Linked DNA regions of Homo sapiens. The protein of the gene in region 1 purifies or fractionates together with the protein of each later gene. This does not show direct contact. Each region holds a gene or a part of one and is shown on either strand. Other genes may lie near its edges.

What was found.
Region 2: the proteins of TEX28 (region 1) and THEM6 purify together in Homo sapiens (co-immunoprecipitation; 2 studies listed by BioGRID and IntAct, with this or other methods). This does not show direct contact.
Region 3: the proteins of TEX28 (region 1) and GRAMD1A purify together in Homo sapiens (affinity purification with mass spectrometry; one large-scale study listed by BioGRID and IntAct). This does not show direct contact.
Region 4: the proteins of TEX28 (region 1) and POM121 purify together in Homo sapiens (affinity purification with mass spectrometry; 2 studies listed by BioGRID and IntAct, with this or other methods). This does not show direct contact.
Region 5: the proteins of TEX28 (region 1) and TRPM7 purify together in Homo sapiens (affinity purification with mass spectrometry; 2 studies listed by BioGRID and IntAct, with this or other methods). This does not show direct contact.
Region 6: the proteins of TEX28 (region 1) and KIF14 purify together in Homo sapiens (co-immunoprecipitation; 3 studies listed by BioGRID and IntAct, with this or other methods). This does not show direct contact.
Region 7: the proteins of TEX28 (region 1) and NBAS purify together in Homo sapiens (affinity purification with mass spectrometry; 2 studies listed by BioGRID and IntAct, with this or other methods). This does not show direct contact.

What each region holds. Positions count from the first base shown.
Region 1 is NC_000023.11:154,274,236-154,278,271, reverse strand, and holds part of TEX28 (testis-specific protein TEX28), read left to right. Parts: intron 1-4,036.
Region 2 is NC_000008.11:142,730,046-142,734,081, forward strand, and holds part of THEM6 (protein THEM6), read left to right. Parts: intron 1-4,036.
Region 3 is NC_000019.10:35,020,535-35,024,570, reverse strand, and holds part of GRAMD1A (protein Aster-A), read right to left. Parts: intron 3,070-4,036; coding exon 2,966-3,069; intron 2,881-2,965; coding exon 2,707-2,880; intron 2,621-2,706; coding exon 2,533-2,620; intron 1,672-2,532; coding exon 1,660-1,671; intron 1,336-1,659; coding exon 1,228-1,335; intron 1,145-1,227; coding exon 1,024-1,144; intron 875-1,023; coding exon of another isoform or gene 830-874; exon of another isoform or gene 786-829; intron 1-785. UniProt on the Homo sapiens protein: Cholesterol transporter that mediates non-vesicular transport of cholesterol from the plasma membrane (PM) to the endoplasmic reticulum (ER).
Region 4 is NC_000007.14:72,941,878-72,945,765, forward strand, and holds part of POM121 (nuclear envelope pore membrane protein POM 121), read left to right. Parts: coding exon 1-1,645; intron 1,646-3,708; coding exon 3,709-3,831; intron 3,832-3,888. UniProt on the Homo sapiens protein: Essential component of the nuclear pore complex (NPC). The repeat-containing domain may be involved in anchoring components of the pore complex to the pore membrane. When overexpressed in cells induces the formation of cytoplasmic annulate lamellae (AL).
Region 5 is NC_000015.10:50,589,164-50,593,199, reverse strand, and holds part of TRPM7 (transient receptor potential cation channel subfamily M member 7), read left to right. Parts: intron 1-573; coding exon 574-1,289; intron 1,290-3,543; coding exon 3,544-3,608; intron 3,609-4,036. UniProt on the Homo sapiens protein: Bifunctional protein that combines an ion channel with an intrinsic kinase domain, enabling it to modulate cellular functions either by conducting ions through the pore or by phosphorylating downstream proteins via its kinase domain.
Region 6 is NC_000001.11:200,592,905-200,596,940, reverse strand, and holds part of KIF14 (kinesin-like protein KIF14), read left to right. Parts: intron 1-3,171; coding exon 3,172-3,274; intron 3,275-4,036. UniProt on the Homo sapiens protein: Microtubule motor protein that binds to microtubules with high affinity through each tubulin heterodimer and has an ATPase activity. Plays a role in many processes like cell division, cytokinesis and also in cell proliferation and apoptosis.
Region 7 is NC_000002.12:15,467,090-15,471,125, forward strand, and holds part of NBAS (NBAS subunit of NRZ tethering complex), read right to left. Parts: intron 1,445-4,036; coding exon 1,293-1,444; intron 716-1,292; coding exon 575-715; intron 319-574; coding exon 240-318; intron 1-239. UniProt on the Homo sapiens protein: Involved in Golgi-to-endoplasmic reticulum (ER) retrograde transport; the function is proposed to depend on its association in the NRZ complex which is believed to play a role in SNARE assembly at the ER. Required for normal embryonic development.

The DNA.
Region 1 (4,036 bases):
GAACTGTTGTGAGAATTAATTAATACTTGTGTGTAAGCCCCAAGTAGATGCTGATGGAACTGAATTTACAATTCCTTTCTGCTTCCTATGTGCAAACTAAGTCCTTGAAAGATCGTAAAGAAAAATGGGGCCAGATGTGGTGGCTTATGGCTGTAATCCCAGTGCTTTGGGAGGTCGAGGCAGGAGGATTGCTTCAGCCCAGGAGTCTGAGACCAGCTTGGGTAACAAAGTGAGACCATATCTCTGCAAAAAATTTTAAAAGTGTTAACCGGACTTGGTGGCACATGCCTGTAGTCCCTGCTACATGGGAGGCTGAGACAGGAGGATCGCTTGAGCCCGAGAGTTTTATGTTGCAGTGAACTATGATTGTGCCACTGTGCTCCAGCCTGGGTGATAGAGGACAGAGTGAGAACTTGTCTCAAAAAAAAAAACAGAAAGAGAGAGAGAGAGAGAGGAGAGAGAGAGAGAGGAGAGAGAGAGAGAGAGAGAGAGAGAGAGGGAGAGAGAGAGAGAGAGAGAGAGAGAGAGAGAGAGAGAGAGAAAGAAAAAGAGAAAGAAAGAAAGAAAGAAAGAAAGAAAGAAAGAAAGTTGTTAATGGCTTTTTTTTTTTTTTGAGGTGGTGTCTTGCTCTGCTGCCCAGGCTGGAGGGAGTGCAGTGGCTTGATCTCAGCTCACTGCAACCTCTGCGTCCCGGATTCAAGTGATTCTCCTGTCTCAGCCTCCTGAGTAGCTGAGATTACAGGCATGCACCACCACGCCCAGCTAATTTTTGCATATTTTAGTAGAGACGGGGTTTCACCGTGTTGGCCAGGATGGTCTCGATCTCCTGACCTCGTGATCCGCCCGCCTCGGCCTCCCAAAGTGCTGGGATTACAGGCATGACTGCAGCCGGCCAATGTCTTGGAACTATTAATAGCCATGGTGGTTGCACAACACCACATGTGCTAAATGCCGCTGAATTGTTCACCTTAAAATAATTCATTTTATGTTACATGAAATTTACCTCAATAAAAATTGAATAAAAAAGAAGCTACTCAGGTGCCGAGTAGGCAAAACTTTCACTCTTGCTTTGTATTTCTGGCTGTATCCACAAGTGGGCAGTCGTGAAATTTTCTTATAGCCTCCTGTCATATTGAAAACGCCCGGAAGTGAATATGCCAGGTCTCCATGTTTTTCTTTCCCTCCTGGACACGAGGTCCTTGGGGGCATCCAGACCCTAGCTCCTCTGTCCCAAGACTGTTCTGGTATGTTTCGCTTTCAGACGAGGCTTGGAGATAACAGGCTATGGTTCCTAGAGGCTTCAGTGTTGCTCTGTGACCTCTCAGCCCCAGGGATCCAGCCTCGGGCTGACTTTCCTCAAGGTATCTGCTTAGGGCTTTGTTGCAGGCTGGGGTCGTGTTAACTTCCATTTTTTCCCCGACTTCTCCTCCATGTCACAGCATCCTGCATCTTGGGATCTCTGAGGAGGTCTGACCTAAGGTCTGATCTGCTCTCTGAACTGGTTCCTCTCATCCCTATTGCGTTGAAGCAAAGCACAGACATTATATCAGTTCATCTGTAAATATTTCAGTGTGAACCTGAAATATGGATCATTTTGTTAACATAGCCTAAATACCATACCAAAAATGTTTTAAAACAAGTCCACAATGTTAAATATGCAGTCACTGTCACCTTATTGCCTCACACATGCCATCATTCCTTTTTATTTCTGAAGGAATTCTTTTTTTTTTTTTTGTGAGACAGAGCCTCACCCTGTCACCCAGGTTGGAGTGCAATGGTGAGATCTCGGCTCGCTGCAACCTCTGCCTCCCAGGTTCAAGCGATTCCCCTGCCTCAGCCTCCTCAGTAGCTGGGATTACAGGCATGTGCCACCACGCCCGGCTAGTTTTTGTATTTTTAGTAGAGACGGGGTTTCACCATGTTGGCCAGGCTGGTCTTGAACTCCTGACCTCGTGATCTGCCTGCCTCGGCCTCCCAAAGTGCTGGGATTACAGGCGTGAGCCACCACACCCGGCCCTGAAGGATATTTTTTGCTGGACATAGAATTCTAAGTTGGCACTTAATTTTTGGAAATAATAAGCATTTTGAACAAATCATTCCCTTCTGACTTCCATGGTTTCTGTTGAAAAGGCAGCTGCCAGTCTTCTTGTTGCTCCTCGGATCACAGTTTTGTTTTCCTCAGGCTCCTTTTAAGATCTTTTGTTTTTCTTTGTTGTTTAGTGGTTTTGCTATGATGATGTTTGGCGTGATTTTCTTTCTCTCTTCTTTTTTGTGCCGCTGACTCTCCCCTTGGTGTGATTTTCTTTGCATTCATCCTGCTTGGGCTTCGCATTGCTACTTGGGTTTATGGCTTGATGTCTTTTGTCAGTTTTGGACGTTTTCAGCCATTATATTTTCAAATAGTGACTCTGCCCTAGTCTCTCATTTTTCCCCTTCTAAGGCCCCAGTTACATGTATGTTCAACCTTTCCACTGTATCCCTACATCCTCTGGGTTCCTGTGTGAGCCGTCCTGGCGAATTTCCTCCTGCTTTCGCTTCTGTTTTGTTGGCTCTTCCCCCAGCTCCCCAGGGCCCCTTGCTTTGGCACATTTGCTCAGAGTGAGCTCATCCATCCTGGCCACATGCACCGATTGCACCTGGGCTATTGACCCCTCCTACAGCTGTTTCTCCGTCTCAGACTTTTCCTCCAAGTTGTGGGCCATGATTAGGCTCTAGCTCAATTTGCCAAAAGCAAATTCTCAGAAATGACCAAGAATATACTCTTTCTGGCTGGGCCCAATGGCTCACACCTGTAATCCCAGCACTTTGGGAGGCCGAGGCAGGCGGGTCACCTGAGGTCAGGAGTTGGAGACCAGCCTGGCCAACATGGTGAAACCCTGTCTCTACTAAAAATACAAAAAATTAGCCCGGCATGATGGCGCATACCTGTAGTCCCAGCTACTCAGGAGGCCGAGGCAGGAAAATCACTTGAACCCGGGAGGCGGAGGTTGCAGCAAGCCAAGATCGTGCCACTGCACTCCAGCCTGGGCAAATAGAAGGAGATCCGTCTCAAAAAAAAAAAACAACAACACTATTTTGAAAAAAACAATAAAGTTTAGAACACTTTGTGTTGGAGAGGGTGGTCTTAACACCTTCGGTCTGTCTTGAGGGTGTCTGGGTTGACTGGTCATCGTTTTGTGTTCATAAGAGCATTCTCCAGAGTTGTCCATTTGCTTCTGTGACTGTAGGAGGTGGAGAGAGGGGGGTCCTTGACCAAGGAAGAGAAGGGAGCGCGGCTGCCAGAGGGCCAGGAGATGGGGGCCAGAGAGAAGGGGAGACTGAGAGAATATCCTTATGAAAATATTGTTTACTGACATCTGAAGAGACTCTTCAAGAATGCACTGAAGAATATCTTCATGTATCTTTACCAATACATTGATGAAGATTGACTTCATATTCCTGAGGACAGTTAAAATCTTGAATGTTCTCACAGCTAGATCATTCATGTAAATGGAAAGACAGTAATGAGGAATCTATTTTCGGGGTGACCATCCTGCCGACCCACTCCCCCTCTCTGTGAGCAGTGGCCTAGTCCATGTTGTCCACCGACTCTCTTCTTAACAGGGACCTGGGGCAGAGACAAATGGAATATTCCTTGAAATGCTGCGAGGAACCAGCTTTTGACAAATTGGCTTTCAACAAATGAGCTGTCAGCTTATTCAGTGCCCGGGGGATTTCTCCGTGTGGGTGTTGGTCAAGTCCTTGGAGTGGGACCGAATAGAAGTCGTCACTGTTTTCCCCGTCTCTGTCAGCACCACCGTTTAGACCTCCTGCACCTGAGGCCTGCCGCCACCCTCCTGGGCCTCCTGGGGCGGCAGCCCTGCCAGTCTATGGGTTCCATCACGCTCTGGTGCCTTCTCTCTTCTACGTAAGCGGTGGTGCCAGAGCCCCCTCACTGGCCCCCTGGCCTCTGTCCTTCTGGCCCGTTCTTTGTGGTGCCAAAAGGGGAACTTCATAGAAGTTTTTAAATTATGAAGTATTTCAAGCAAAGGGAAAA
Region 2 (4,036 bases), on another chromosome or scaffold:
GGTGGTCTGAGGTGAGTTAGTTACAGTAATAACAAAGGCGCTAGTAACAATAAGGAAAGGAAGCAATATGAAGGTACAGGAAAATTAAGCTTTCTTTAACTTTAACTTAGTAGGATTGGTCCTAGTACAGTCATCCATGATTCTGAGAGAAAGATGTTTTCTTGACTGGAGTGTGGTCGTTTTTTTCTTGGCTCTGCGGATGGCAGTCTCAGTGGTTAACAGCATAAAATAGGGTTCTTCCCAGGCTGGCTCAAGTTTTTTCTTTCTGTCTTTTGATGAGGACGTGGTTTTCAGGCTGGTGCTGGTGTACTGGAAATTCTAGGGGTGGTACCTAGAACTAAAAGTCTTTTAGTTCTGAGGGAAGGGAAACTGGAAGATAAATTAAGTATATCATTTTTGCTGCATATCCTGGGGCTTGAGGCCCCATGGTGATGCCTCCCGCTCCATTCCTGCTCAGCGCCGCCCAGGGGACACTGCGGCCCTGCCTCCTCTTAAGCTCTTGGCCTTCTTGGGGCCTTCACTGCCCCTGTGCACTGTGGCCTTGGACATGAGGGGCCTTGTGACTTACCTGGCCACCTTCAGGCCTTAAGAAAGCTAAACACCATTTTATATTTGACAGTGCTTTTTGTATGATTTTATACCAGATAAGTTAAATTTTACCTTTATACTAATGTGCTATTAATGTTAAACTTAATAAAATCTTTTTTTTTTTTTTTTGAGACAGAGTCTTGCTCTGTCGCCCAGGCTGGAGTGCAGTGGCGCAATCTCAGCTCACCGCAAGCTCCGCCTCCCGGGTTCACGCCATTCTCCTGCCTCAGCCTCCTGAGTAGCTGGGACTACAGGCGCCCGCCACCATGCCCAGCTAATTTTTTGTATTTTTTAGTGGAGATGGGGTTTCACCGTGTTAGCCAGGATAGTCTCGATCTCCTGACCTCGTGATCCGCCCGCCTCAGCCTTCCAAAGTGCTGGGATTACAGGCGTGAGCCACCGTGCCCGGCCAAACTTAATAAAATCTTGTAGACATTATTTATTCAATTTTAATGTCTGACTATAGGGTAAGATTTTTATAGACTCTTTTTAAGCTTTTATAATTTTTGTTAAAGAGCGGGTTAGTGCTTTAAGAAAAATCTATTGTGCTTTTAACATCCAGTTCACAGAAAAACTGCATGATACCCCTTTAGCTTTAGCCAATATGTTTACACACAGAATTTCCTTTACAATTAACATTTTAAAACTTGCTTAAACCTTTAAAACAAAATATATTTTTTAACCTTTTAATGTAGGTAAAAATCCATATTATGTCTCCTTATAATCCTGTTATTAAAAGTATTATTTTATTTTTCTGACATACCTTGTATATAAACTGTTTTTTTTTAAATAATTTTACATTCAGGAGGCCTAATTACTTTTAAATTATACACTATTTCTTGCATAAATTCCCTTTTATAGCTTTTCTTACAACTTTCACAATCTTCAACATGTCTTAACTTTCTGCCTGCCTTTTACGCTATTTCTTTTTCTCAGTTTCACCCTCTATGTCTTCCTTTGATTTCTGTCTCTTCCAGTTTCTCTCTTATTCTTTCCCTCTGTATTTTAATCTCTTTCTGTCTCTTCTCTCTCTTCACTCTCTTCATCCCCTGCTTCCTTCTTCCCTCCTGAGTTCTCCCGCTCCTGCAGCAGCAGGGCCGGGCAATGGCACCAGCCCCTGGGCATGCACTGCCGTCAGTTTCTCTATCCACCCCCACCATTCCCCTTTTTACTTTTTTTCCCCTTTCTTCCTACACTTAGTTTCTCGGGCTGGGTGGGATTTGCATGGCTGCAGTCCGGCCCCGGCAGCCCAGAGGCTTGGCAGATGCCTGCCACAAATTGCAAGAATTATGCCCTCTCACCTCCTCTGCTCTCTTCCTGGCGCCGCTGTGCTTGCTGTTTTTGCTTTCTTTTTTTCTGACTTCCTCTCCTAGTTCTTTTTCCTGTCTGCTGGTCTTTCCTTTGTCTCTGCCAGCCACCTATGCTGCTGTTTTCCCCCCTCTCCTTCCCCTTCCCCTGGGGGACCAACCAGCGGGAGTGAAGCTTAGCCTTTTTCTTTCCCTGTGAAGAGGGGAAAAGGGAGTTTTGAATATATATATATATATATATATATATATATATATATATATATATATTTTAACTACTGGAGGTTTGTGTGAGGTTCAACCCCCTGAAATTAATGGAAGACTTAACCCCTCAAACCAGGGGTGTCTTGCCTTGCCTGCCCTGGGAGGTTGACCTGTTTCCTCCTTTCCCCCCAAAGGTCCCTTGCATACTTCCCACTTGTGTTGTCCTCTCTGGTCGCCCCCCCAAGGGAGAATTAGGCCCCTCTTAGTGTAGGCGTGCTGGTATAAATCCCACAGCAGGACCTGCCCTAAGCCATATGAGGTCACTACAGAACCGGAACCATGGAGGGGACCCACTCACTGTCCAGCAGGAGGACTTGTCACCGTCCACACAAACCACACTGCAAGCAGGGTTGTCTGTGATCATTCACACATACACACATTCAGCCCTCCAGAATTTCACCACCAAGGAAGTACTTTACCAGCTTCTGTGGCTTCTCCTTCCTTGGTCTGTGCACAGAGTTGCAGCCCTGGTATGTGAGCATCCTTTACCTTAGGTTGCTGGCCAGTTTCTTTTTTTTTTTTTTTTCTGCATTGCTGAGAGTCCGGGTTTATTCGTCACACCAGGTGGGTCTCAATTTCTCATCCCTGAGGCCACTGCAGTGAGGCAGAGGAGCGTGCTCCCTCATGAGAGAGGAACAGAGACCGCCCCCGCAGGAGAATGTAGCCCTGTACGGATTGCCACCAAATTGTTTGAAATGCTTGTTCCCCGGTGCCGTAAAGAAACAGCAGTTGAACATAAATTTAATTTACTCAGCAAGGACATTTTTACTTCCTGCAGAAAGGACACACTTGCCATCAGCTTTGCCACAAGAGTTCACCCAACAAAGGAAACAGGGTCATTTATAACCTGACGCGTCCACCCTATTGCCGTCTCTGGTTTCCATTGACTGGGATGGGACCTCACATTCTGTATCTGTCCCGATTGGCTAGCAACGTACAACTTTTTAAAAGAGGCAAAGGCAGAGGAGAACAAAGGAAGGAAGTAATTTGTGGAATGCTGAGAAAGGTAAAAACACCTTCAAATAAGGAAGAGGAACAGGCTATGACCTAATGCCCGCTTGGACCAGTATAAGCATGCCAGGGCAAATATTTAGGCTAAATTGTGGGAGCTAAGAACCTAAAGTAGTACATTGCTTTCTTTATTACTGCTAGCAGATATTTAATAATGTTAGCACAGGTCTTTGAATAAATTTTGCTTCTAAGAGAAGTTACTATTTATTCCTAATTAGATCGGTAGGAAAGTCTTTGAAGAGGAACCTCTACTTTACAACTAAACATCTAGAGGCTCGGAATGCCTCTTTCTGGGGATGCAGCCCAGCAGGCCCCAGCCTCATTTCCCAGCCCTCACTCAAAATGGAGTCGCTCTGGTTCCAGCGCCTCTGACACTGAGAGGTCATGTCAGGAATGGGGAAACTGAGGCTCAGAGGAGCTATGGCACTGCACAAAGCTACACGGCTCCCTGGTCTTCTGTTTCTGTTGAGTCATGTGAACCAAAAAGTATCGGAGATATGTCTCAGTCAATTTAGAAAGTTTACTTTGCCAAGGATAAGGACTCACCAGTCCTGACAACATGTGCCCAAGGTGGTCGGGGCACAGCTTGCTTTTATACATCTCAGGGAGGCACAATACATCTGTCAGTACATGTAAGATTCACATTGATGCCATCTGGAAGGGGGGCTTTCAGGTCATGGTAGATGTAAAAGTTTTCTGATTGGCAGTTGGTTGAAAGAGCTATTATCAGTAGAAAGGCATGTCTGGGTTAAGATACTGGTTGTGGAGACCTAGGTTTTATTATGCAGATGAAGCCTCCAGGCTGCAGGCTTCAGAGGGAATAGATCATAAATGTTTCTTGTCGGACTTAAGGTCTGTGTTGTTAATGC
Region 3 (4,036 bases), on another chromosome or scaffold:
TGGAAATGCAGGCAATGCCAGACTCTGTTTCCCATCCGCTTTCCCCCTCGACACCTTCCCCGAGTGCCTAACACTTGCTCTGACCCACCACAACTGCTGGCCTGACACTTGCTCTGACCCACCGCAACTGCTGGCCTGACACTTGCTCTGACCCACCGCAACTGCTGGCCTGAGTCTACTGGGGCCTGAGGGAATTGTCGTGTGATGACATCACATTTATTGGGCATCTGCTTTGTCCCTGGCACTAGGCTCAAACTCAGGACAGCCAGCCCACATCCAGTGTTTCCTGCAGGCCTGGCACCACTCCCAATGTCAACTTGTCTCATCCTCACAACAGTCTTTGAGGTAGCATCAGTCATTATCCTGTGCACAGAGGAGTCCACGGCCACCATGGCAAAATCACTTGCACGAGGTCACACACCGGAATTGGAACCTGGTTGTCTGAGTAGACATTGTCCCTGAACTACACTGGGTGTCTGGGTCCACTCCGTTTTGGAGATGAGACCTCAGGTCCTTTGGAGAGTCTCTCCCCTTCAGACCATGTGACCCCTTAGTTACCCCAGAGTGGGGTAGCGGGTAGAGGGACCACACGTGGCCTGCCCTGGCTGTTGTGATGTGTCAGGGGTAGGCCTGGGACCCCAGCAGCCAATGAGAGTAAGCTCCGTGGTCCCCTGTGGGGGGAAAAGGGTGGCCTCCAATGAAGCCAACCCTGGAGATGGGCACAGGGCAGAGTGGGCACGAGAGACTGACTCTTACTGCCATTGAGTGACCAAACCCGGCCGTGCCTAATGTGAGACGCCTCTGGACTTTTCTCCAGGACGTGAGCCAATCAGTTCTGTCTTCCATCCATGCTTCCATGCTTTCCCCTGCAATGCTGTGGGGTGGGGACTCTGAGCGGCTTCCTCATTTTACAGAGGAGGACACTGAGATCCGGAGAGGGGAAGTGCCTGCCGCACGGTGGGGTTTCAACACAGGACCCTGCAGCCCCGCAGCCCCGAGCCCTGCCCGAGCGGCGCCTCCTACCTCATCCAGGAGCTCCACGGAGGCCCGCAGGATCTGCCTCCACTTGTGCACCTCCACGCTGTGGAATTGCTTCTGCAGCGCCAGGATCTCGGCCCACTCTGTGGCCGTCTGGGGGAACTTGCTGTGGGGATGCCAGGCCTGAGCAGGGCCTTGGCCTCCCCCGATGTGCCCAAGCCCCCCCATTTCCCCAGGCTACCCACTCACCCCTTGGCCAGGGCCAGGCTGTGCCAGGACTCAAAGGTGTGGGCTGTCCTTTCCAGGGACCAGAGGCGGTAGAAGAGCAGGACGTTGAGGGCGATGAGGATGATAAGGCTGGGGACAGGGGTCAGAGGTCAGGATTCCTGGGGTCTAGATGCTCTGAACACCCCCAAACAACTACATCTTGTAGGGACACCTCTATCCCCCATTGCAGAGGAGGAGAATTAGGCTCAGAGAGGATGAGAGACATGCCTAGGGTTGCACAGTCCATAGCAGGGAAGTCAGTGTTCAAACCCAGGTCTGTCTGATGCCCATACCCTTGACTGCCATGCCAGGCCACCTCCCTGGGGGAGCTGGGGGGCATGGGGTGGGGAGAAGAGGCTGCAGCAGGGGTGGGGTGCAGGGAGGGGAGGGCAGGGGGAGGACTCGGGACCCTACCTCACACAGATCCTGCAGCAGCAGCAGTGAGGGGAGACAGAGAGATGAGCGCCGCCTGGCCTGCCCCCGACACCCCCAGCCCTCCTCACCCGGGGCAGCTCTTGGCTGAGAGCACCACGCCCCCTCACTGGATGAGAGCTGAGAGCTGAGGCTCAGAGGCTGAGCATGTAGCTGGCCTGACCCTCACCTCGCAGGGTCTGCTCAACCCCGGGATCCTGCTTCTGTTTCCTCCCAGCGTCCTGCCCGCCAACTCCTGCAGGCTTCTGGGCAGGAGTGTGGGTTCTCCCTGCCCAAGCCCTTAGCCTACGCGGTCTCCACTCTCTCAGGACGCCCATCCTGACTGCCCCCTCTGGCCTGGGAGGAAGCCGCCGCTGGCCTCCCAGGGCTTCCCCACTCCCAGCCCCAACCCCTCTGCCCATACCTCCCCCATCCCAGCCCGGATCACTCTGGTCTGGTGTGAGGTCTATCTTTTCCTCAAGGTCACTGCGGTGTCCTCAGCATCGCCCAGCTTAGGAGTGGGCACAGAGAACATAATGTCCATAAATGACCTCACTTGTTAGGCACACCTCTCCCTGTGCACCTAATTCCAGAATCTTTGTGTGCCTGCTCCTCCAGAAAGCCCCCCTTGATCCTTGGGTGAGGTCAGGCCCCTCTGATCTCCCATAGCCCCCCCCGGCTCTGCTGTTCTAGCAGGGAAGGCTTCTCCATGACAAACCGGCACATCCCAAACATTGCCTTGTCTAATCCTTGCTGTGAGCAAACCCACGCTCCCACTTAAGCAGAGAGCTCAAAGAGGCCACACACTTGCCCAAGGTCACACAGCCAGGAGGCAGGTTCAGGCCTGTGTGGCCACTGCTCCTGTCTCTTACTCACACAATGCTGATGAGAACCAGGGCACTGGGGATGCCTGCCCCGGGGCCCTGGTCCACAGATGGTTCGGAGAAGCGGGAGCTGAGGGAGCCTGCAGGAGAGCAGCTTGGAGTCAGATGGCCCAGTCCAGGACCCCCGATCCTCCGCCTACCCCAACCCGGCCCCAACGGAACGTACCCGAGGTGTGAATGCCGGCCCGGGCACAGGGGTCAGGATCTGGGTGCTGGGGCCCGTCCCCGTGAGCCCGCCAGCTCAGGGGCCGCTTCCGCCGCCGCAGGCCGGATAGCAAGCCCCGGGCATCCTTCCCGCCTTCCTCCAGAGACAGCTTCTCAGCCTTGGCGAGCTCTCGCTCTGCGTAAAAGAGAGGGGGCTCTGGATGTCCATACCTGGCCAGGCCATCCCCCAACCCACGCCCCAGCCGGCCTTCTGTCCCTACCCAGATGGTGGAAATAGTCTTCAATGCCGCTCCACGAGTTCTTCTCAATGAGCGACTTCACCAGGCTCCACGGCTGCTTTCGGTAGCGGATCTCAGAAGACACTCTGGGGTTGGGAGATCAGGGGAAGGAGGTAAGGGTCTGACTCCAGCCCTGGCTGCCCCGTCCCACAAGCTGAGTTTTTTCCTTCCCCTAATTCAGAGAGGGCCCCTTGTCACTCACAGACAAAACAGATGGGTTCCCTACCCCCCATGGCTTCCCTGGATACCCCATACACCACCCGCCCAGCCCAAATGCCAGCCAACTCAGCCCTCGGTCCTTCTCCACCCATGCCCACTACCTGGGCAACGCTCCCGGCGGCCTGAGCCCTGTCTACTCACAGACTGACGTCTTAACCAGACCATGCCCCTGAACCTCTTCCATTCGGCTGCTGCACCCCAGCTCCACATGGGCTCAGCTCAACATAGACAGCTGAGTCCCAAACTGACCTCCTGGTCTTTCCCCAAACCCATTCCTCCCTGCCGCCCCCATCTGGGTCAAGGGCAGCTCCGAAGTTGTAGTGATTTGGGCCAAATGCCTCGGGATATTCCTTGAGCTCTCTTTCCCTCACCGCCACATCCAATCTCTCAGCAAATCCTGTCAGCTAAACCTGCAAAATCTCTCCAGAATCTAAACTCTTCCCCCTCCATTTCCTCACCCTGATTCAGCCTCCGTCCCCTCCAGCCTGGATGTCCCAGCAGCCTCCTCCCTGGCCTCCCTGCTCCTGTACCTGTCTTTGCAGTCTGTTCCCACCAGAACAGAGGGAGCCAGAAGGAGCCTGGGACCACCTGAGTCAGGTCAGCGCCCTCCTGGCTCAGAGCCCTGGCCTGGTTGCACCTCACTCCAGGTAAAGTCAAGTCTTCACCATGAGCCACATCTGGTTCACCTTTTTTTTTTTTTTTTTTTTTTTGAGACAGGGTCTTGCTCTGTCGCCCAGGCTGAAGTGCAACGGTGTGATCATGGCTCACTGAAATCTCCACCATGTCTGGCTAATTTTTTAACTTGTTTTTTGTTTGTTTGTTTGTTTGTTTGAG
Region 4 (3,888 bases), on another chromosome or scaffold:
AAGACACCCAGCCTCCTACCCCCGCTGGGTTTATCACAGTCAGGGCCGCCAGGGCTGCTCCCCAGCCCCTCCTTTGACTCCAAACCCCCGACCACTTTGCTGGGGCTGATCCCTGCTCCATCCATGGTACCAGCCACTGACACCAAGGCACCTCCAACCCTTCAGGCAGAGACGGCTACCAAACCCCAAGCCACATCTGCCCCGTCCCCCGCCCCCAAGCAAAGCTTCCTGTTTGGAACACAGAACACCTCACCTTCCAGCCCTGCCGCCCCTGCTGCATCTTCAGCACCTCCCATGTTCAAGCCCATTTTCACGGCTCCACCCAAGAGTGAGAAGGAAGGCCCCACACCGCCTGGCCCTTCAGTCACAGCCACAGCGCCCTCCAGCTCCTCCCTCCCCACGACCACCAGCACCACAGCCCCGACCTTCCAGCCTGTCTTTAGCAGCATGGGGCCACCTGCATCTGTGCCCTTGCCTGCTCCCTTCTTCAAGCAGACAACTACTCCCGCCACTGCTCCCACCACAACTGCCCCGCTCTTCACTGGCCTGGCCAGCGCCACCTCTGCTGTGGCTCCCATCACCTCTGCCAGTCCATCCACAGACTCTGCTTCGAAGCCTGCGTTTGGCTTTGGCATAAACAGTGTGAGCAGCAGCAGTGTGAGTACCACGACCAGCACCGCCACTGCCGCCTCACAGCCTTTCCTCTTCGGGGCGCCCCAGGCCTCTGCTGCCAGCTTCACCCCGGCCATGGGCTCCATATTCCAGTTTGGCAAACCTCCTGCCTTGCCCACAACCACCACAGTCACCACCTTCAGCCAGTCCCTGCACACTGCCGTGCCAACGGCCACCAGCAGCAGCGCTGCCGACTTTAGTGGTTTTGGCAGCACCCTCGCCACCTCCGCCCCGGCCACCAGCAGCCAGCCCACTCTGACGTTCAGTAACACGAGCACCCCCACGTTCAACATTCCCTTTGGCTCAAGCGCCAAGTCCCCGCTCCCATCATATCCGGGAGCCAACCCCCAGCCCGCATTTGGGGCCGCTGAGGGGCAGCCACCGGGGGCCGCCAAGCCGGCCCTTGCCCCCAGCTTTGGCAGCTCTTTCACTTTTGGAAACTCTGCAGCCCCGGCTGCTGCACCCACACCTGCACCTCCGTCCATGATCAAGGTCGTGCCTGCGTACGTGCCTACGCCCATCCATCCTATCTTTGGCGGTGCCACGCACTCGGCGTTTGGGTTGAAAGCCACGGCTTCGGCCTTCGGCGCTCCCGCCAGCTCACAGCCCGCCTTTGGCGGCTCCACTGCTGTCTTCTTCGGTGCAGCCACCAGCTCCGGCTTTGGAGCCACCACCCAGACCGCCAGCAGCGGGAGCAGCAGCTCGGTGTTTGGCAGCACAACACCATCACCCTTCACGTTTGGGGGTTCGGCAGCCCCCGCTGGCAGTGGGAGCTTTGGGATCAATGTGGCCACCCCAGGCTCCAGCACCACCACCGGAGCTTTCAGCTTTGGAGCAGGACAGAGTGGGAGCACAGCCACCTCCACCCCCTTCGCAGGGGGCTTAGGTCAGAACGCCCTGGGCACCACCGGCCAGAGCACACCGTTTGCCTTCAACGTGAGCAGCACAACTGAGAGCAAACCTGTGTTTGGAGGTAAGGAGGGGCGTGGACTTGGGCTACCGGGCCGGACACTGAAAAGCTGTGCCTGCGAAGCCTGTGGTCTCGGGGAGCTTATGCTGTGGCAGTGAAGAGACAGGCACTGAATATAGAACTCAGTGAGATGCCAGGGAACGATACATGTTTTGCTAACGTAGTAATGACTGGAGGAGCCATTGTGGATTTAACTGGTCAAAGGCCTTCTGAGTAGTTAACAATTGTAAGCTGAAGGTTGGGCGCAGTGGCTCACGCTTGTAATCCCAATATTTTGGGAGGCCAAGGAGGGTGCATCACTTGAGGCCAGGAGTTCAAGACTAGCCTGGACAACTTGGCGAAACCCTGTCTCTACTAAAAATACCAAAAAATTAGCCGGGCGTGGTGGTACCCACCTGTAATCCCAGCTACTCAGGAGGCTGAGGCACAAGAATGGTTTGAACCCAGGAGTTGGAGGTTGCAGTGAGCCAAGATCATGCCACTGTACTCCGGCCTGGGTGACAGAGCAAGACTCTGTCTCAAAAAACAAACCGTAAGCTGAATATGGGGGTGGGCACAGCACAAGTGGACATGCCTTTCAGGCCCAGGATGGCGCATGCAAAGGCCCAGAGGCAGAAACATGTTTGGTATGTTGAAGAGCAGAACAAAGACAAGCATGGCAGGAGGGCAGGAGCTAAAGCAGTGGTGTGGAAGGAGGCCAAGAGGCAAGGATTGTTTGTGGCCAGGGTTGGGTGTTTGGGTCTTAAGTGTTCAGGAAAACCATTGCAGAATCAGGCAGAAGGATGCAGTGATGGTTCCTCCCATGTGGAAGATGAATGTAGATCCCATGGCTTCTGTTTGCTTCGTGAAGTAGAGAAAATCTGGGAGAGAGAGGGTCAGGATAAAGTGTATAAAAAAAGGGGTCTTTTGAAATAGTCATTTTGGACAGTGGGGGAAAGGAACATCATATTAAAAAGTGTGATCAGTTTCCAGGCAGTTTGTGGGCTGGAAAATTGTGATTGTGAAGTTAAAGTGAGGCCAGTTAGCATGGCATGTGTTTCCCAGCGACACTGTGGGTGTAGACCTAAGGTCAGCGGACAGCTGGTGCCACCCGGCCATGGAGACCCCAGCAAGCACAGCAGGAGGGGCAGCGGGTCAGTGCCCCGATGCAGCTCAGGGGGTGCAGGAGTGGAGAGCGGGTGAAGTCAGCTGCAGGAGGGGTGGTGCCTACAGGAGATTCGGGAGCCGGAGCAGTTGTGGTGACAGTGTGGCTGCAGGAGTGGTGGCAGGGGTCGGGGAGAGGAGGTCATGGGGGTGGCAGGGTTGAGGGGCTGAGAGGACCATCAGTCAGCCTCACAGGGCGAAGTCACCGTGAGTGGTGATGGGAAGGAAGCCAGTGAGCCAAGGGTCCTCTGTGAATCAGGGAGTGACCTGGCAGTTGACAGGTGACATGAGGACATGGCAGATTAAAGTGATCTGAACTTGAGTTACGGTATTTAGGGAAGGAAGAGAAACAGTGTGGAAGCAGCGTGGGAGCACAGGGAGCTTCCTCTTGTCCGGGCCGGAGGCCAAGCCCTGAGAGCAGCCATCCCTGCAGAGGGGCTGCCAGAGAGGGCCTCGGGCAGGCAGCCAGAGCCAGTCAGGGCAAGGCCGGGGAAGGGAGGGGACCACGGGGCATCACAAAAGACGCGGGACGGACAAACCAGGCTTCAGAGGGGAGGGGACGGTGGCTGGGGGAAAAGGCCTGAACAGAGGAGGTAGCCAACCCAGGTACGCTAGGAGGCGGGGGCCCCAGAGTACTCCCCTCTGCAGCGATGGTCAGGAGGCCCACGAGGTGGCTGCGGGGCAGGGGGGCTTTTTCTCTGCCCTGGCGTGGCCATTAGCGGGTGGGAGAAGCAGGCTGAGCTGGGGCACCAGGCATGAAGACTCGGTTGTCTGGCTCAGCTGCTGATGGAGGAGTGCCCCAGAAGCAGAAGTGGGGCTGAGGGTCCCGTGGGAAGTGCCCTGCGGAGCACAGGCTCCTGCCCGGCTCCTCGCTTGCCTCTGCCCTCTGCTCACTGGCCAGCTCTCTGTTCTCTTCATTCCAGGCACCGCCACCCCCACCTTTGGTCTGAACACCCCTGCGCCTGGAGTGGGCACATCAGGCAGCAGCCTCTCCTTTGGGGCATCCTCAGCACCCGCCCAAGGCTTTGTTGGTGTTGCACCTTTCGGTAAGCAGCAAGCCACCCTGTGGCCCTGCTCATCTGTCTGAGGAGGGGTTGGGCGGG
Region 5 (4,036 bases), on another chromosome or scaffold:
CTCCTGCCTCAGTTTCCTGAGTAGCTAGGATTACCGGCGTGCACCACCACACCCAGCTGATTTTTATATTTTTAGTAGAGACAGGGTTTCAACATGTTGGCCAAGCTGGTCTCGAACTCCTGACCTCGTGATCTGCCCGCCTCAGCCTCCCAAAGTTCTGGGATTACAGACGTGAGCCACTGTGCCTGGCCAGCATTTCTTTTTTTCTGTTGGCTTCACTACATTCTGGAAGCATATGGTGTTTGGTAACAGTTACAGTAACAGTAATGGTAGTTCTGTATATATGTAGCTGTATATACATTATTTTGTGTTACTTTGATGTGGGGTAATTGGAATAAGTAGCCTGTGGAACAAAAACGTTTTTTGAAATCTTGCATTTTAATATAAGATTAGCACTGGATCCTTCTTAAACATAAGGTAGGCCTTGTATAATTAAATAACTGTACCTTATTTTATATCTTGTTTAAATGCATGTGAAATTTTTCTCTTTTTATCATTATTATTTGAGGCTACAAAATAAAATTCTACATTATTTTTTCACATTTGTAAAAAAAGCTTATTTCTCTCCTACAGAGTGGAACAGATGTGCATTCAGATTAAAGAAGTTGGAGATCGTGTCAACTACATAAAAAGATCATTACAATCATTAGATTCTCAAATTGGCCATTTGCAAGATCTTTCAGCCCTGACGGTAGATACATTAAAAACACTCACTGCCCAGAAAGCGTCGGAAGCTAGCAAAGTTCATAATGAAATCACACGAGAACTGAGCATTTCCAAACACTTGGCTCAAAACCTTATTGATGATGGTCCTGTAAGACCTTCTGTATGGAAAAAGCATGGTGTTGTAAATACACTTAGCTCCTCTCTTCCTCAAGGTGATCTTGAAAGTAATAATCCTTTTCATTGTAATATTTTAATGAAAGATGACAAAGATCCCCAGTGTAATATATTTGGTCAAGACTTACCTGCAGTACCCCAGAGAAAAGAATTTAATTTTCCAGAGGCTGGTTCCTCTTCTGGTGCCTTATTCCCAAGTGCTGTTTCCCCTCCAGAACTGCGACAGAGACTACATGGGGTAGAACTCTTAAAAATATTTAATAAAAATCAAAAATTAGGCAGTTCATCTACTAGCATACCACATCTGTCATCCCCACCAACCAAATTTTTTGTTAGTACACCATCTCAGCCAAGTTGCAAAAGCCACTTGGAAACTGGAACCAAAGATCAAGAAACTGTTTGCTCTAAAGCTACAGAAGGAGATAATACAGAATTTGGAGCATTTGTAGGTAAGTTTGGCAAATTCGTATTTGTATATCAATATTATTTACTTTTCACCTTAGAAATAATAGAAATATGTACTGTTACAAGTCATTATCTTTTCATAGAGTATAATTATAAAATTTTTAAAAAGAATCAGACACCTGTGATTCTGGTACTTTGGGAGGCTGAGTGGGGAGGATTGCTTGAGCCCAGGAGTTGAGGACCAGCCTGAGCAACATAGCAAGACCCCATCTCTACAAAAAATTTTTGGAAGTAGCCAGGCGCAGTGGCATGTGCCTGAAGTCCCAGCTACTCAGGAGGCTGAGGCAGGCGAACTGCTTGCACCCAGAAGCTGAAAGCTGCAGTGGGCTGTGATCACACAACTGCACCATAGCCTGTGTGACAGAATGAGACCCTGTCTCTAGAAATGAAATGAAAAAAAAAAAAAAATCAGAAGTAGGGGAAATAGACTGAATTAGGCTATAAGAGTTATATTGGCACATAACCTCTTTGATGGAATTTTAGGTTCTGTCTTTTGAATTTGAATATCTTCAATTGGGTTTCATCAACTCTTGTTGAAAACCTAAGTGATTCTTAAGTACTTGGAGAACCTCATAGGGGAGGTTAGAATCAACTGGAAAAGAACAGTGCCCTATAAATAGATGACCATATAATTTTTTTACCCAAACCAAGACACTTTAAAAGTGAAAGGGTGCACTATTAATAATTATATCAGAACAACAATGGAAATCTAGGAATCTACTGGGAAAATTAGTACTTATGGTGTACCTATTTATATATTCACAGAGAACATTTCAAAAAGGAATGACTTATTCTTATACCTATGATAGCTTAAATAAGATAAGAACAAAAAAAAATGTTTATTTTGGCAGTAACACATTAAAGACCTTAGTGAAAACTTTCATGCATAGAGATTATTCAGACAGTATGTTAATAAGCCCATGGAAAATTGCCACATTAAGGCCAGCCTAGGAAGTTATCTAGGCACTAAACATGTTGATATTACTTCTAGGCTATATGGGATTCACTCTAGATACATAGATATAACTTTTCCTACGTTAAATATATTCCCCCTTTTTTTTTTTTTTTTAAAAGACGGAGTCTCCCTCTGTCGCCCAGGCGGGAGTGCAGTGGCACAATCTCGGCTCGCTGCAACCTCTGCCTCCCAGATTCAAGTGATTCTCCTGCCTCAGCCTCCTGAGTAGCTGAGATTACAGGCACACGCCACCACACCTGGCTAATTTCCAATTTATTTTTAAAAATGCATTTTAGCCTATTTGTTAATGTATTACCAGTGGGGTGTATGTATATATCATATATATTTTCTCTACATGTATATTATATAGGAAAAGTTACATATCTGTATATCTAGAGTGAATTCCATATAGCCTAGCAGTAAGTATCAGCATGTTCAGTGCCTGAATAACTTGCTAGACTGGTCTTAATGTGGAGATTATACATGGGCTTATTAACATGTTGTCTGAACAATCTCTATGTGTGGAACAGTTTTCATTAAGGTCATTAAAGTGTTATTGCCAAAATATTTTTGTTCTGTTTTTGTTTAAGTTATAGGCATAAGAATAAATCATTCCTTTTTGAGTGATTATCCGTATATATGTAATGCTTTTTTTTTTATTAATAGTAAAAATGCTTGGTCCCCTTTTTTCTTTTAAATTTCGAGCTATTTATTCATATCACATGTTGGTTTGTTTTATAAGGACTTTGGCTTTTAACGTTACTGTAAACTTAACTATAATCTTGGCCAGGTGCGGTGGCTCAGGCCTGTAATCCCAGCACTTTGGGAGGCCAAGACAGGCAGATCTTGAGTTCAGGAGTTCAAGACCAGCCTGGCTAACATGGTGAAACCCTGTCTCTACTAAAAATACAAAAATTAGTCAGGCATGGTGGCACGTGCCTGTAGTCCCAGCTACTCAGGAGGCTGAGGCAGGAGAATTGCTTGAACCCGGGAGGCAGAGGTTGAAGTGAGCCAAGGTCACACCACTGCACTCCAGCCTGGGCAACAGAACGAGACTTGTTCTCAAATTTAAAAAAACAAAAAACAAAAAAAACTGTAACCTTCACCAGCTTCTTGGCAATTTTCAATTTTATTTATCAAAAGAGCTAAAGGAGACTGCAGAGCCATCAAGTGTACTTGAAAAACAGCATAAACCTATTGTTTTTATAAACTTTAAGCAGTGCCATTATTTCGGTGAAGAAAAATAAAAATTTCTCATTGCAACATCTTTTTTTCTATTAAAGGACACAGAGATAGCATGGATTTACAGAGGTTTAAAGAAACATCAAACAAGATAAAAATACTATCCGTAAGTAAATCCTTATTAAAACACCCACAGTTCTATTTATTTTACTGTCTTGATGTTTAGTTCAAAATTTAATTAAACATTTTTTCAGCAAAAATACAGTTTTAGCAGATATCATTAACATGCTGATACCAAATATTTGAAGCTGTCCTCAGTTTGAAAAAATGAACAATTGAGGAACATGAAAAGGTACAAACAGCTTGCGTAATTATACTCACTAAATAAAAAACATCAGCTATTTAACATTTCTCTCTTTTTTTTTTTTTTTTTTTTTTGAGACGGAGTCTCGCTGTCACCTGGGCTGGAGTACAGTGGTGTGATCTCCGCTTACTGCAACCTCCACCTCCCGGGTTCAAGTGATTCTCCTGCCTCAGCCTCTTGAGTAGCTGGGATTACAGGTGCGCATCACCATGCCTGGCTAATTTCTGTAT
Region 6 (4,036 bases), on another chromosome or scaffold:
CTGAGTGACAGAGCGAGACTATGTCTCAAAAAAAAAAAAAAAAAAAAAAAAAGAGAGAGAGAGAGATAGAGTGTTCTGGCCAGGTGCGGTGGCTCACGCCTATAATCCTAACAGTTTGGGAGGCTGAGGCGGCAGATTACTTGAGACCAGGAGTTCAACATCAGCCTGGCCAACATGGTGAAACCTCATCTCTACTGAAAATACAAAAATTAGCCCGGCATGGTGGTGGGCACCTATAGTCTCAGCTACTTGGGAGGCTGAGGCATAAGAATCACTTGAACCTGGGAGGTGGAAGCTACAGTGAGCCAAGATGACTCTGCTATACTCCACCCTAGGCAATAGAGTGAGACTCTAACTCAAAAAAAAAAAAAAAAAAAAAGACTGTTGTACATTGAGGTCATAGAGATGTTCTAAATTTTCTTCTAGATGTTTTGAAGTTTTGCTTTCACATTTAAGTTATTGAATGTCTGGAATTTTTTATTTGGTGTGAATTAGGGATCTAAATTCATTTATTTTCCACATGAATAGCCATTTCTCCCAGTACCAAATATTAAATAGTTTATTGCTTCTTTTGGAATCTGTAGTGCTCCTACAAAAAATTTCTAAAAATATCAGAATCTGTTTCTTCCTACTAATACCCCATGGTCGTAATTACTTGAGCTTTGTAATGAATCTTTATTTATTTATTTTTTGATTTCAGAGTTTTGCTCTGTTGCCCAGGCTGGAGTGTAGTGGCACCATCTCAGCTCACTGCAACCTCCTGGAGTCGAGCAATTCTCCTGCTTCAGCCTCCTGAGTAGCTGGGATTGCAGATGTCTGTTACCACGCCTGGCTAATTGTTGTATTTTTAGTAGAGATGGGGTTTCACCATGTTGGCCAGGCTGGTCTCAAACTCCCACCTCAGGTGATCCGCCCACCTTGACCTCCCAAAGTGCTGGGATTACAGGTGTGAGCTACCACGACCGGCCTGTAATGAATCTTTATATCTTTTTTTTTTTTTTTTTTTTTGGAGATGGAGTCTCACTCTATCACCCAGGCTGGAGTGCAGTAGTGTGATCTTGGCTCACCGTAACCTCCACCTTCTGGGTTCAAGCGATTCTCGTGCCTCAGCCTCCTGAGTAGCAGCCACCATGCCCAGCTAGTTTTTTGTATTTTTAGTAGAGACGATTTCATCATGTTGGCCAGGCTCGTCTTGAACTCCTGACCTCAGGTGATCCACCCACCTTGGCCTCCCAAAGTACTGGGATTACAGACGTGAGCCACTGCACCTGGCCATGAATCTTTATATCTGTTAGGGCATATCCTTTTGTTCTTTAGGTTCTTTTGCTCTTTTATTAATTAATTATTTTCTTTAACAAATAAATACAGTATTATTAACATCTGTGGCAAAGATACAGAACATGCTCCCAAAGAGTTAAGAGTCCAGTAAGGAACTTGGAAGCCTCTTGCTTGCCTCTAACTCTCTACTTCCATTTTTCGTACCTTCCTCAGTTTATCTTGTTCACTAGACCATGAACTTTATGAAAGCTGATTTCATGTCTGTCTTCATTGCTGACACATAACTGGCTCTTGGAGGCTTAATGAATAAAAGAACTTCATGGCTGAGGCTGGTCATGTGAAAGAGAAAAAAAGAACTTCAGTATCTATTAATGCATATTAAGTGTTATGAGTACTGCATACTTACTGCTTAGAAGTGAAGAGAAGGAAGAGTTGACTTCTAACTTAAACCCTAAAGAACAGCTTCTTAGAGGACTCTAAATTGGGCCTTCAAGAATGGTTGCAAGAAGGGAGAGGATGTCCTATCTGGAAGGAATGACTCAAGGAAAGGAGGAAAGCTGACATTAAGGCAAATTCAGAGTATTCATATGGTTGATTAAGTGTGAAATGGGGTTCTTATGGGAAAATAGTGGCAGATGAGGGAGGTTGGTGGTTGAAGCCAGATTGTGGGGCGTCCAGAATGGTAGGCCATGGAATTTTGAGAGCAGAGTAGATAGAATTAGGAGAGGAAAGGGATCAGAACAAGTACACATTGTATAAACCTTCACCTGGATAAGACACTAGACTGGTAGGAGGGATGTAGTGCCTAAGGGTGAACTATTGTTTCCATGTACTTTTCTCTAGATGCTTTAATTAAACTATTATTCTCTAATCACAGATCTTGGAGCCTAATCCACAGCTAAAAAGATCTTTGGTTAGGACTCAGCTTTTGTTGCAGTTTTTCTTTCTATCCCGTTAATCCAAAGATGAATTGGACTTTGGAGTTTCTTTCCTATTCTCTGAATAAAAAGACTCAAATATGTAGCACTTATAGCTGATTTTCCACAGTATCACCTTATCATCCAGTAAATTAGATGTCTTAAGGGGTACACTTTGATCTCCATGTTTTTCCTTCCTCTGTAGTACCCTACTTTTCAAAAGGGGAGAAATATTTGTTCTTTCTGTTATTAAAGCTCATATGTAAAACCAGAAGCTTAGAAAATTAAAAAAACACTTAAAACTGTTTTATTCATAAGAAATCACTGGCAGTATGTTAATGTTTTTTGCTAGTTTTTTTTTTTTTTTTTTTTTTTTTGAATTTTTGGGGGAAGGTTTTTGTTTTCAAAGAAGTTATAATAAAAATACACCCAATGAAGAATGTTCCCACCACAGGTGGATCGGATTGCTAGAGGCCAGGCTTTTTTCACCAAACTTCAAAATCTAATTGGAGGCTCGATGCAGTGGCTCATGCCTGTAATCCCAGCATTTTGGGAGGCCGAGGCAGGTGGATCACTTGAGGTCAGGAATTAGAGACCAGCCTGGCGAACATGGCAAAACCCCATCTCTACTAAAATGCAAACATTAGCTGGGCAGGGCATGGTGGTGGGTGCCTGTAATCCTAGCTACTCAGGCAGCTGAGGCAGGAGAATTGCTTGAACCCAGGAGGTGGAGCTTGCAGTGAGCTGAGATTGTATCACTACACTCCAGCCTGGGCGACAGAGCAAGACTCCGTCTCAAAAAAAAAAAAAAAAAAAAACTAGTTGGAGGAAAATAAAATAATTTTAAATTATTGTTACATATTGGTATGAATCTTAACACCAAAGGAATAGCCCAAGCAGAATTATCCCATATTGCCTTTTTCTTACTTTTTAGTGTGTTCTATAATTGTTAACTATGTGCTTCTTATTTTAACAGTACTATCAAAAATTTTGGTGGGACAGTGAGTATTATCCCAGTTGGGGAAGCAAAGACATATGTAAATGGAAAACATATTTTGGAAATCACAGTATTACGTCATGTAAGTGGATGGGTGCTATAATATAAGAAACTGTTCGACTTTGGATAAGTCATTTAATTTCTTTGAGTTCTGGTTTTCTCTATAAGATAAGGGTGTTGAAGCAGATTAAGGACTTTTTCATTTCAAAAATTCTTTTTCCTATTAATTGCTTTCTTGTGCAAAGACAAAAGTTACATTTATATGAATCAGTACCTGAAGAGCTGACCACTAATAGCATCATTATGTGTCCTATAAAGAGCTAGGCTTTAGAATCAGACAGACAGGGTTGAAATCCTGGCTTTGCCATTTGCTCTGTGACGTCTGGCAAGTTATTTAACTAGATGATTAAACAATGTCACCCAAGTCAGGACACTTTTGAGATCATTATTAATAATTACATCAAGAGAACAAACATCAGCAGTGTGTTACAGGCAAACCCAGACCTATTGTGACTCTATATATCCTGCCTTTCAGAGATAGTGAAGGATTAACTGAAATAATAATTTGTGTATATAGTTCTTAGAATAGTATCTGCAAATAGTAAGCTCTCAATGAATGTCTCTTGTTATTATTAAGCTTTGTGCTGTTTAGTTTCCTCATTCCTAAAATTGGGATGATTATATGTATCTCACTGAGTTGTTGTGAATCGTAAATGAGATAACATAAAGTCTTGCACTTCATAATGATGTTTTGGGCAATGAGGGACCACATATGTAACAGTGGTCCCATAAGATTATAATACTGTATTTTTACTGTATTTTTTTCTGTTTAGATATACAATTA
Region 7 (4,036 bases), on another chromosome or scaffold:
ACAAATGCACTGAAATGGCTAAGGCACTTCTATTCCCTAGTCTAACAAAACAACTTCTGGCTTTCACAATCTCTAATTTTTACCAAAACTAGTATATAAGAGAACTTGCTTCTATAAGAAATTAATTTTTCCCAGAAAAATAGTTCTAAAGACCAAGAATATCCGATATTAGGGCAGCCATAGCATTTATAATGACAGATCAAATGAACATAATTGGTTTGACAAAAATTATTCATTACCTCATATGTTGCAAGTCGATCTAAGTAGGTTAATAACTTCCGTCTACAACGGCAAAGTTCCTTTTGTTCCAGTGTCAACCTGTTTTGAATAACTATGTTAGGCCACTTATATTTACACAGAATTATTTCTCTAGGAGTTATAATGAAAATGATTAATATTCCGTTGAGCCCAAAACTCATGAAACAGTTCAGAAAAGCACAAGGGTAAGATAATAGTAAGTACATTTGATCTAAGTTGCTAAAATAATTTGGACTAATTATTACTAGTAAGGAACACACTGAAATGATTAGTTATTTTAAAGAAACTATCAAATGAACAGTAACAACTCATTTACTTGGAAAAGTTCACTAATTTCAGTAGTTCTTGTCTCTTCTTGAGCTCCTTTTCCTTTTTATTCTTGGCAGGCTCTTCATCAGGTGGTGAAAGCTCTTCATAGGAGATACTGTCAATGTCTATTTCACCAGGTAATGTAAATCTGCAAGTATAAAAGAACAAATATATTTTCATCATTTTTAAAAACTTCGTGTTGTGAAAAGCTTTCTCCTATTTTGACTGATTTCATTATTGATTTCCACAAAAACAGAAGAAAGTATTTGAAAAAAACTTTTGCCATTGTAAACAAAGTGATCATTCATTATATCCACAGATGGGCAAAAAGTCATCAGTAATTATTACAAATAGAAATCTAAAAATCAAGAAAATGAAAACTATTTAGGAAGAGATGTGGGGTTACATTCACTCAATGTAAAGCAGCCTATGCTGAAAATGTCCACAGAGTTTGCTATTTGAATCACTTCTACTTAAGGTCTTCAAATGGTAGTGTCAGTCTCATTTTAATTATTTACTTCTCAGATATACTCTCATATTTATATTTTTTAAAAAGTTCCAAATGCCTGATGAGCAATGACTTCAGGTAAGACAGTATTGATCAAAAGCAACTGCTTCAGTACAGAATAACTTAAATAAAGAAAAGTTTACCCAGTCCAATGTCTCAGTACAAAAGTTTTCACAAAGTCACCTTTACTTTGAATCCAATTCTTTCTGTAACCAACCTGCCATCATCTGCTCCTTTCCCTATTGCTAAAAGAGCCTCCAGGTCTGTGCCTTTTAATCCATACTGAAGCAGTTCTTTTGCAGCATCCACATTTTCAGGAACTCTTTCCAAACACTCATGGAGAACCCAGGATCGCTTCTTTATTTTACTCTGCATATAAAGGAAGAAACAGAGGAATTACAGAATCCATGACATCTTACAACACATTACAACTGCCTTCAGAATTGTAAAGCTATACCTGATGTATTACAGCTATTTAGGACCTTGGCCATAGGGAGCTGCTAGAGGAACTCAAGAGAAAAGCAGCCAGTTGCCTAATGGTGACTACAACTGGATGCGGGGAGTGTGAGTTGACCTGCTTGCTTTCTTCCTCTAATGAGCTACGCAGAAACAGAAAGCTCAGGACTCATTTTTGGAAATATAAAATGTTTCCTCCTAACTTTTATAAATGCCTTTGGTTTGCACCGTGGCTGTATAATAGAGCAGACAATAAGGCAGAAAGGCAAGATATATTCTGTCATAATTAATAAGCATGTTTAACTTTTAAACAAAACAAATGAGCCCATCAAATTTCTGTATTTATTTGACCATGAGATATATCCCAGGGTGTGAATAACTTGATCATAAAAAGTCATGATATGCTGTTTTTTGGAAAGATCAAAGTCCTATTCCTCCCTCCCAACTATTTCCTCCAACTCCATTCAAAATCTCTGACTTTATTAGTCTTGCTAGTGGTCTATCAATTTTGTTGATCTTTTCAAAAAACCAGCTCCTGGATTCATTGATTTTTTGAAGGTTTTTTTGTGCCTCTATCTCCTTCAGTTCTGCTCTGATCTTAGTTATTTCTTGCCTTCTGCTAGCTTTTGAATGTGTTTGCTCTTATTTCTCTAGTTCTGTAAATTGTGATGTTAGGGTGTCAATTTTAGATCTCTCCTGCTTTCTCTTGTGGGCACTTAGTGCTATAAATTTCCCTCTACACACTGCTTTAAATGTGTCCCAGAGATTCTGGTATGTTGTGTCTTTGTTATTGTGGAAGACAGTGTGGCGATTCCTCAAGGATCTAGAACTAGAAATACCATTTGACCCAGCAATCCCACTACTGGGCATATACCCAAAGGATTACAAATCTTCCTACTATAAAGACATATGCACACGTATGTTTATAGCGACACTACTCACAATAGCAAAGACTTGGAACCAACCCAAATGTCCATCAATGATAGACTGGATTAAGAAAATGTGGCATATATACACCATGGAATACTATGCAGCCATAAAAAAGGATGAGTTCACATCCTGTATAGGGACATAGATGAAGCTGGAAACCATCATTCTGAGCAAACTATCACAAGGACAGAAAACCAAACACCGCATGTTCTCACTCATAGGTGGGAATTGAACAATGAGAACACATGGACACAGGGTGGGGAACATCACACACCGGGGCCTGCTGGGGGGTGGGGGGAGGGGGGAGGGATAGCATTAGGAGATATGCCTAATGTAAATGACGAGTTAATGGGTGCAGCACACCACCATGGCACATGTATACATATGTAACAAACCTGCACGTTGTGCACATGTACCCTAGAACTTAAAGTAAAATAATAATTAAAAAATAAAAAATAAAAAAAAAATCCCTGACTTGCCCTCTTCCTAGAAAGAGCTATTATGGTTATAAATTTTAATTAAGATTTGACTCATTCCCTAGGATCCTTTATATATTGCCTCACATCAGTTCTTTCTTCAAATGTCTCTTAATTCACTTTCCCTTTTCCACAGCTGCGGCCTCCATACCAGTCTAAATCATCAACACAAAACATCTAGCACACTGTAGGAGTCCCCTGCCCCAAGCAAGGTTTCCTACCTTCCTTCCACTCCAATTCTCTCTACACCATCTTCCTCTGCTTCCACAGTCAGAAATCCACAACAGTAGATAAATGCCTAAGTCATCAGAAGCTTTCCACATCCTCCTGAACTCAAATCAATATATCTTTTCAATCATGTTTCCCAGTGTTCACTATTGTCAAATATCAGTGCCAGCAAACTGGTTGATGTACAGAGCTCATTTATCCATAAAATGTTTACTGGGCACCTACTGCACACCAGCCACTGAACTAGACATGGAAATATAGCAGTGAATAAAACAGATTTAGTCACTGGCCTCATAAATCATGCTCAGTGTCTTTTAATTTGTTCATACCATCTGTCCTGTTAAGAATGTCTTCCTCCCTTCTCATTCAAGAAGGCCTAATTTAAATCCTTCCAAATCCCTGCTCCAAACATCTTCACTATATAAAATCTTCCATCTCTACCAGATCTATAATAATCACTATCTTCACTGGGTTTCTAGAGTTGTATCTGAAATCTACTTATACGGCCAGTTATTTTTAATATGGTGAACCCCCGTCTCTACTAAAAATACAAAAATTAGCCAGGTGTGGTGTTGTGTGCCTGTAGTCCCAAGCTACTTGGGAGGCTGAGGCGGGAGAATCACTTGAACCAGGGAGGCAGAAGCTGCAGTGAGCCGAGATCGCACCATTGCAATCCAGCCTGGGCAAAAAAAAGCAAAACTCCATCTCAAAACAAAACAAAAAAAATCATAAGCTCCCTATGAGCAAAAGCCACATTTATGCCTGTCCTGTACCCCTTCACAGTCCCTAGCATAGTGCTCTTGCTCTTAACTGTCTATTTAACTAAACGAAATATTCCCCTCCCCAAAAAAGTACTTGCTTTGTCTCTCTT